Homo sapiens: one gene and its partner. The protein of the gene in region 2 purifies or fractionates together with the protein of the main gene of each other region. This does not show direct contact. Each region holds a gene or a part of one and is shown on either strand. Other genes may lie near its edges.

The links.
Region 1: the proteins of CCDC40 (region 2) and UNC13B purify together in Homo sapiens (affinity purification with mass spectrometry; 2 studies listed by BioGRID and IntAct, with this or other methods). This does not show direct contact.

What each region holds. Positions count from the first base shown.
Region 1 is NC_000009.12:35,308,356-35,312,008, forward strand, and holds part of UNC13B (protein unc-13 homolog B), read left to right. Parts: coding exon 1-57; intron 58-2,111; coding exon 2,112-2,426; intron 2,427-3,653. UniProt on the Homo sapiens protein: Plays a role in vesicle maturation during exocytosis as a target of the diacylglycerol second messenger pathway.
Region 2 is NC_000017.11:80,098,256-80,101,144, forward strand, and holds the end of CCDC40 (coiled-coil domain-containing protein 40), read left to right. Parts: intron 1-572; exon of another isoform or gene 573-622; intron 623-1,271; coding exon 1,272-1,520; 3' UTR 1,521-2,358; downstream 2,359-2,889. UniProt on the Homo sapiens protein: Required for assembly of dynein regulatory complex (DRC) and inner dynein arm (IDA) complexes, which are responsible for ciliary beat regulation, thereby playing a central role in motility in cilia and flagella.

The DNA of each region.
Region 1 (3,653 bases), on a different chromosome or scaffold from region 2:
GAATGTACAGCAGCCAGTCACTCTGAATGACATCAAGGAGCCCATGACCAACAAAAGGCCTGTTCTTAACTCAAGCATCATAAATGGCTTTAAGGAATTGACCATTTATGATGCAAGTGACTTAGTGGTAGATTAATCATAGCTTGCTTTTTATCCTTCTTGTGTCTTTCCTAGTACCCGAGCTTCATGTTAATTAGGGGTTAAATAACAAGAACTCAGTGTGTGGGTATTTTCATCCTCCCCTTCTCTCTCTGCCAAATGTAATTCATTTACTGGAACAAGGAGCTTCCTGCTTAAAGCAAAAGCTGGGCCCCCGATATTTACTCACTCTGGTTTGCTCTGCCTTGTATAATGTGAAATGGAGAAAGGAGGGCAGGAAGAGGTAGTAAGTAGTTGGTGGTATATATTAACTACAACTACATGATAGGCTAGGATGCTTCCTTGGGCCTTAGGCACTTATATCTTGTAGGAGATGGGGATAGATCTATTTTGCTTTGTTTTTTCAAGTCTTCTAAGATGCTTTCTCCAGTGGCAATGAGTGTATTAAGCAAAATACAAAGTGCAAAGGATGCCTTGGGATAGTCTGTATTCCCATATCCTATTCCATACAGATTTGCATAGTTTCTTCCATGGTATCATCTCTGCCTTTTACTACCCTCAAGGCTGATGTCTGATAAATGCTTTGAGTAAAATCTCACAGGAACTCAGAGCTGTCCTTTGCTGTAGTTCTTCAGTCTCGAGCAGTGTACAGGATCTATCTGCAGAGGGTACTGTTATTTCCCCTAAGAAGCAGTACCATACAGTACAGATTAAGAATGCTACCTTGACCTCTGGCCCAAACTTGTTCAAAGGGGTTGGTCAGGGTCAGTGTGTGTGTGTGTGTGTGTGTGTGTGTGTGTGTGTGTGTGTATACTTATGTACAAGTATATGTGTTTGTGTGTTGAACTACTCAGAACAGTGACCTGGTACCTATTCTGCTGGCATGGGCTAGAGGATCAGAAATCAGCCTGAAAATACCAGGTAATTAGGAGGAACTTTAGGGAAAATCCCATTGGAAAATAACAGTGATTTCTCTTCTTTGACCAAGGGTAAACACAAGCCCTTTAGTTAAAGGCTTGACTCTGTGGTAAGAAAATTCTTCAAAAGAACTGAAGCCCTTAGATGACAGGGCCATAAAACTCAAGGAAGTAACTTCTAGATACTGCTCTTCTTTCCACCACTCTGCCCTTCTTGCCACTGTCACATTCTCTGCTATAACTGCTTTCTCTCATGACTTTCTGGATATGGGAATACAGGTGATTGAGAAAAGATTGGCTTGCTGGTCTTCAGATATAGAGATGCATGAATACGGCTCTGACCCAGATCCTGGAGTTGGACTTTGTCCACTCTTTCCAAAACTGAGCCTTGCCCTGAAAGAAGCTCAGTTACAGATGTTCATCTTTGGGACGCTTCCTATGCTGCCAGGGATATCATTGTAGCATTTATGTTGATGAGACCATTCGTTTGTGTATTCTCTTGGTCCTGGCCTCTATCTTCCAATGGGTTCTATTAACTCATCTTGCAGATGAGGAAACTGAGATGATAACTGAAAGAACATGTCTGCTCTCCTTTGCTCATCCTAAGGTACAGGCGTACACATTTACAATTGTAGAGGAAGAAATGATGACCTCAATGTAATAAGTAATAGAAAAAGAGTGGAGTTCATTCATTCCATTTTACTGTGTGGAAATTAAAGAAAGATTAATCACAGCCACTGGACAAGCTTCTTTAGAAGACTGAATAAAGAATTTTAGGAATAAGTAACAGGCCATTTTAATAATTTTTAATCCTACTCACAAATAGCCTATTAAGATAAAATATACTTCAAAGTCAAGTGCAGAACTGAGGTTAAGTGTCGTTGGAGAACCCAGCATGTTGTGTTGTTTTCCTGTTGTGTTTTCGCTGAATAGAGACTAATTCTTCTAGATTATGAAGTTTGGTCCTCTCTTCCCAGGAACCTCCTATTTGATTCTTGCTACTAATGTAGTCATTATTTCCTGGATGTCTCCTTTCTTTTGTCCTGGTCCCTGATTGCATTTATTTACTTATCTGTCTTTCTGTCATTCTCACAGCCCCACCAGCAGCAGTAGGTATGGCTCCTCCTGTAATGTGAGTCAAGGAAGCTCTCAGCTAAGTGAACTAGACCAGTATCACGAACAAGATGACGACCATCGGGAGACGGACTCGATTCATTCTTGCCACAGCTCTCACAGCCTGTCCAGAGATGGCCAAGCAGGTTTTGGAGAACAAGAGAAACCCTTGGAGGTGACAGGTCAAGCAGAGAAGGAGGCAGCATGTGAACCCAAGGAGATGAAAGAAGATGCCACAACCCACCCTCCCCCAGATCTGGTGCTGCAAAAAGACCACTTCCTAGGTCCCCAGGAGAGGTAGGCAACAGCTGCCTTGAGGAGCTCACATGGCTTCCTCAGTACCTGCCCTGTGGTATTGCTGAAAATAAGTGATTGTCATTTGTTTCCCTGCAGCTGGGTATGGTGGTAGTTAACACCTCCAGGCTCAACTCTGTATTGCTTCCTTTGATTTATGGTGCACTTTCCAAGACATTTTGGAGATCTCTGAAGAATATTTGGGTTTTTGTTTGTTTGCTTTTGAGATAGGGTCTCACTCTGTTGTCCAGGCTGGCACGATCTTGGCTCACTGCAGCCTCAACAGCCTGGTCTCAAGCAATTCTCCCACCTCAGCTTCCTGAGTAGCTGGGACTACTAGGTGTGCACCACCACACCTGGCTAATTGTATGTTTATAGAGACAAGGTTTCACCATGTTGCCCAGGCTGGTCTTGAACTCCTGAGCTCAAGCAATCCACCTGCCTCAGACTCCCAAAGTGCTGGGATTACAGCGGTGTGCCACTGCACCCAGCCAGCACTTGGGTTCTTTGTAGTTAGTGAGCTGCAGTGTACCAGGGCTTCTTGAGTCTGCAGTTCATAGCTTACTAGTTGACCTTGTATATGGCAGCCTCTGAGTCAGGAACTGACTTGAGCCAGGTTATTTCATCCACTGGGGCTGTGGTAGGTACTTTGGCTGACTTCCTAACCTATTAAGAATGCTACTTTGACCTCTGGCCCAAACTTGTTCAAAGGGGTTGGTCAGGGTCAGTGTGTGTGCATGTACTTATGTACAGGTATATGTGTATGTGTGTTGAAGTACTCAGAACAGTGACCTGGTACCTATTCTGCTGGTATGGGCTAGAGGATCAGAAATCAGCCTGAAAATACCAGGCAATTAGGAGGAACTTAGGGAAAATCCCATTGGAAAATAACAGTGATTTCTGTTGTAACTTTTTTGGTGAACATTTTGTTTTGTTTTTCCCTGGCTGAGAAACCCAGGACAGAGTTAAGAAAGAATTGATCTAGAAGTCAGATTTAACCCACCCCTCAGCCTCCTCAGGGCCTAGCAATGTGTCTGCCAATTGGTATCCATAGGAAGAAAAATTTAAAATGTATCCTCTTTAACATCTCATAATGAAGCTGAGTACAGAGTCTGAATGTTATTACTGAGCTAAATCGGTTAGACTAGCTGATAGGTTGGAGCAGAGCCAGAGTTCTCAGTCTCGGCACTCGTGACATTTTGGGCCAGATTATTCTTTGTTGTGTATATT
Region 2 (2,889 bases):
AGACTGTGTGCGGCCTTAGGGAGAGCACAATCATGACTTTGGACTTTTCTCTTGGGGAGGTGGGCACACAGAGGAGGGCGTTGGGTCTGAGAGGTGACTTGGGCTTTAGCGGGCTCCCGCGCGCTCTAAGATTGCATGTGGATGAAGCATGGATGCGGGGGGCACCTGGGGCTATTTGCAGTGCTTCAGGGCGGCCCCTGTGGGGCTGGCGAGAAGCCATCAGGCTCTGCATATGCGTTATGCCAACATCGCCCGATGGGATTCCTGCTGGGTTGGCTGTGGTGTGAGCAGAGACGGAGGTGGAGAATGGCTCCAAGGTTCTGGCCTGGCCAACTGAGATGATGAGGGGAACGTGCCTGGCACTGGGCCTGACACACGGCAGGTGTCAAGAAGGTTGCCTAAGCCGGGCACGGTGGCTCATGCCTGTAATCCCAGCACTTTGGGAGGCCGCAGCAGGTGGATCACTTGAGGTCAGGAGTTCGAGACCAGCCTGGCCAACATGGCGAAACCCCATCTCAACTAAAAATACAAATATTAGCCAGGCATGGTGGCGGGCGCCTGTAATCTCAGCTACCCGGGCGTGGTGGTGGGGGTGGGTGCCTGTAATTCCAGCTAGTTGGGAGGCTGAGGCAGGTGAATCGCTTGAAGCCGGGAGCCAGAGGTTGCAGTGTGCCAAGATTGTGCCATTGCACTCCAGCCTAGGTAACAGAGCGAGACAGCCTCAAAAAAAAAAAAAAAAAATGCCGGCGGGTCACAGTGGCTCACACCTGTAATCCCAGCACTTTGGGAAGCCGAGGCAGGCGGATCACGAGGTCAGGAGATCGAGACCATCCTGGCTAACACGGTGAAACCCTGTCTCTACTAAAAAAAAAAAAAATACAAAAAATTAGCCGGGCCTGGTGACGGGCATCTGTAGTCCCAGCTACTCAGGAGGCTGAGACAGGATAATGGCGTGAACCCGGGAGGCGGAGCTTGCAGTGAGCCGAGATCGCACCGCTGCACTCCAGCCTGGGCGACAGAGCAAGACTCCATCTCAAAAAAAAAAAAGAATGCCTCCTAGATGGTGATGATGGGTGACCCATAAAGCACCGACCCAGTGCCTCTCAGCCTCTTCCCTGAGATCCAGGGGCGCAACACCTTCACGCCGTCCCTTTTCAGGCGTAGGTCTCGCCTCCTCTTCGGCATTTCCTGGAATCTGAGTTTGTGGGGGGCCAGCAGGTGTCTTTCTTCTGGTTTGCATAGCCCTATATGGAGTCTCTTTTCCTACCCAGAACCTTTCAGAGATCGTGGCCCTGCAGACACGCCTTAAGCACCTGCAGGCTGTGAAGGAGGGGCGCTACGTGTTCCTGTTCCGCTCCAAGCAGTCCCTAGTGCTGGAGCGCCAGCGCCTGGACAAGCGACTGGCTCTCATCGCCACCATCCTGGACCGCGTGCGGGACGAGTACCCCCAGTTCCAGGAGGCCCTGCACAAGGTCAGCCAGATGATCGCCAACAAGCTCGAGTCACCAGGGCCCTCCTAGGGAGCAGCCTGGACTCCGCCTTGCAAGGCCTCCAGGAAGAGATCCGGAATTGTGTTTGTCATGAGGGACTTGGAATCTTTTGTGTTCCTAAAAACCACATGTACCCTCAGAAGGGCATCGTTTAAGAGAAATAAGCCAGCCCCACCCATAGGAATCTTTTTAGCCACTCAGCAATTTAATAAACCAGGTAAAATCCTAGCGTTTCCCATGGCATCCCATCGCAAAGACAGAGCCTGTGACTGCAGACCCACACACCCACACTCCCACACTGGGCTTACTCGTCCAGGTAACACTTTGGTTTGCAGCACTCCCAAATCTGCACGTGCCTCTCACAACACAACGCTGCCACAGGTCCACAAGCTGGTGGGCTGAGCAGAGGTGGGAAAGTTAAGGCAGCTCCAGCCAGCCTGGCCCGGGAGGCTGGTCCCCCCAGCACTTCCCTCTACTAGGTGCATCTGAAAACCCACAAACCACCTTCTTTACCAGTTTTCCCATCCCCACCCCTTAGAACTCTCAGGTCCCTTTTCCTGCCCCCATGTCCCCATTTGAGTTAAATTCAGATCCACAGCTTGCAGGAGAAAGTCAGTGGCCCCAGACACACGTAACAGGGTGAGCACTGAAATAAGAGCACGCTGGGGCGTCCACACCAAGGGACTACGCCCCAGTCTGCCCACCTATCTTTTCTCCATCATTAACCCAGCGCTCTTTCTCCCTGGACTTCCAAGTACCAATGACCTTGGGGCTTCTTTGCAGTTTAAAGGGAAAATGCTCTACAAAATAATTTCACTTTCAAACATTTCAGCAGAAGAATAAAATCTTTTTTCTGAATATCTAGTAAGCCTTTCTGAGTCAGCCTTACTTATTTTAAAACATTGTAGAAATACAGAAACCACAACAGAGGTGGAAGGGAGGCTTTTGTTTTTTTTTTTTTGAGACGGAGTCTCGCTCTGTCGCCCAGGCTGGAGTGCAGTGGCGCGGTCTCGGCTCGCTGCAAGCTGGAAAGGGGGCTTTTAATGCCCCTATGCCCCTACCCAGGAACAACACCTCTGTGTTTTGGTGTGGCTCCTTTTGTATTTTTCTGCACATACATTTTATTAGGCAAGTTAAGGTTATACTGTGTGTTTTTTGTATCTCACATGTAAAAATGTGCTCCTCTTAATGTAAGCATTTTCTCATTTTATGAAAAAATTCCCCCTGTGTCAGTTTAATGTTTTCTCAATTGTCAGTTTTATGGGTTATCACAATGTTTTGATTATTCCTTTCTGGAATAACTGTGAGTTATGGAGCACACTTAAGGACTTTCCAAATGTTGGCTGTTTCTAACTTGGCGCTGAGCGCCTTTGGCCGCCTTTCCGATGATGCCCTCGGG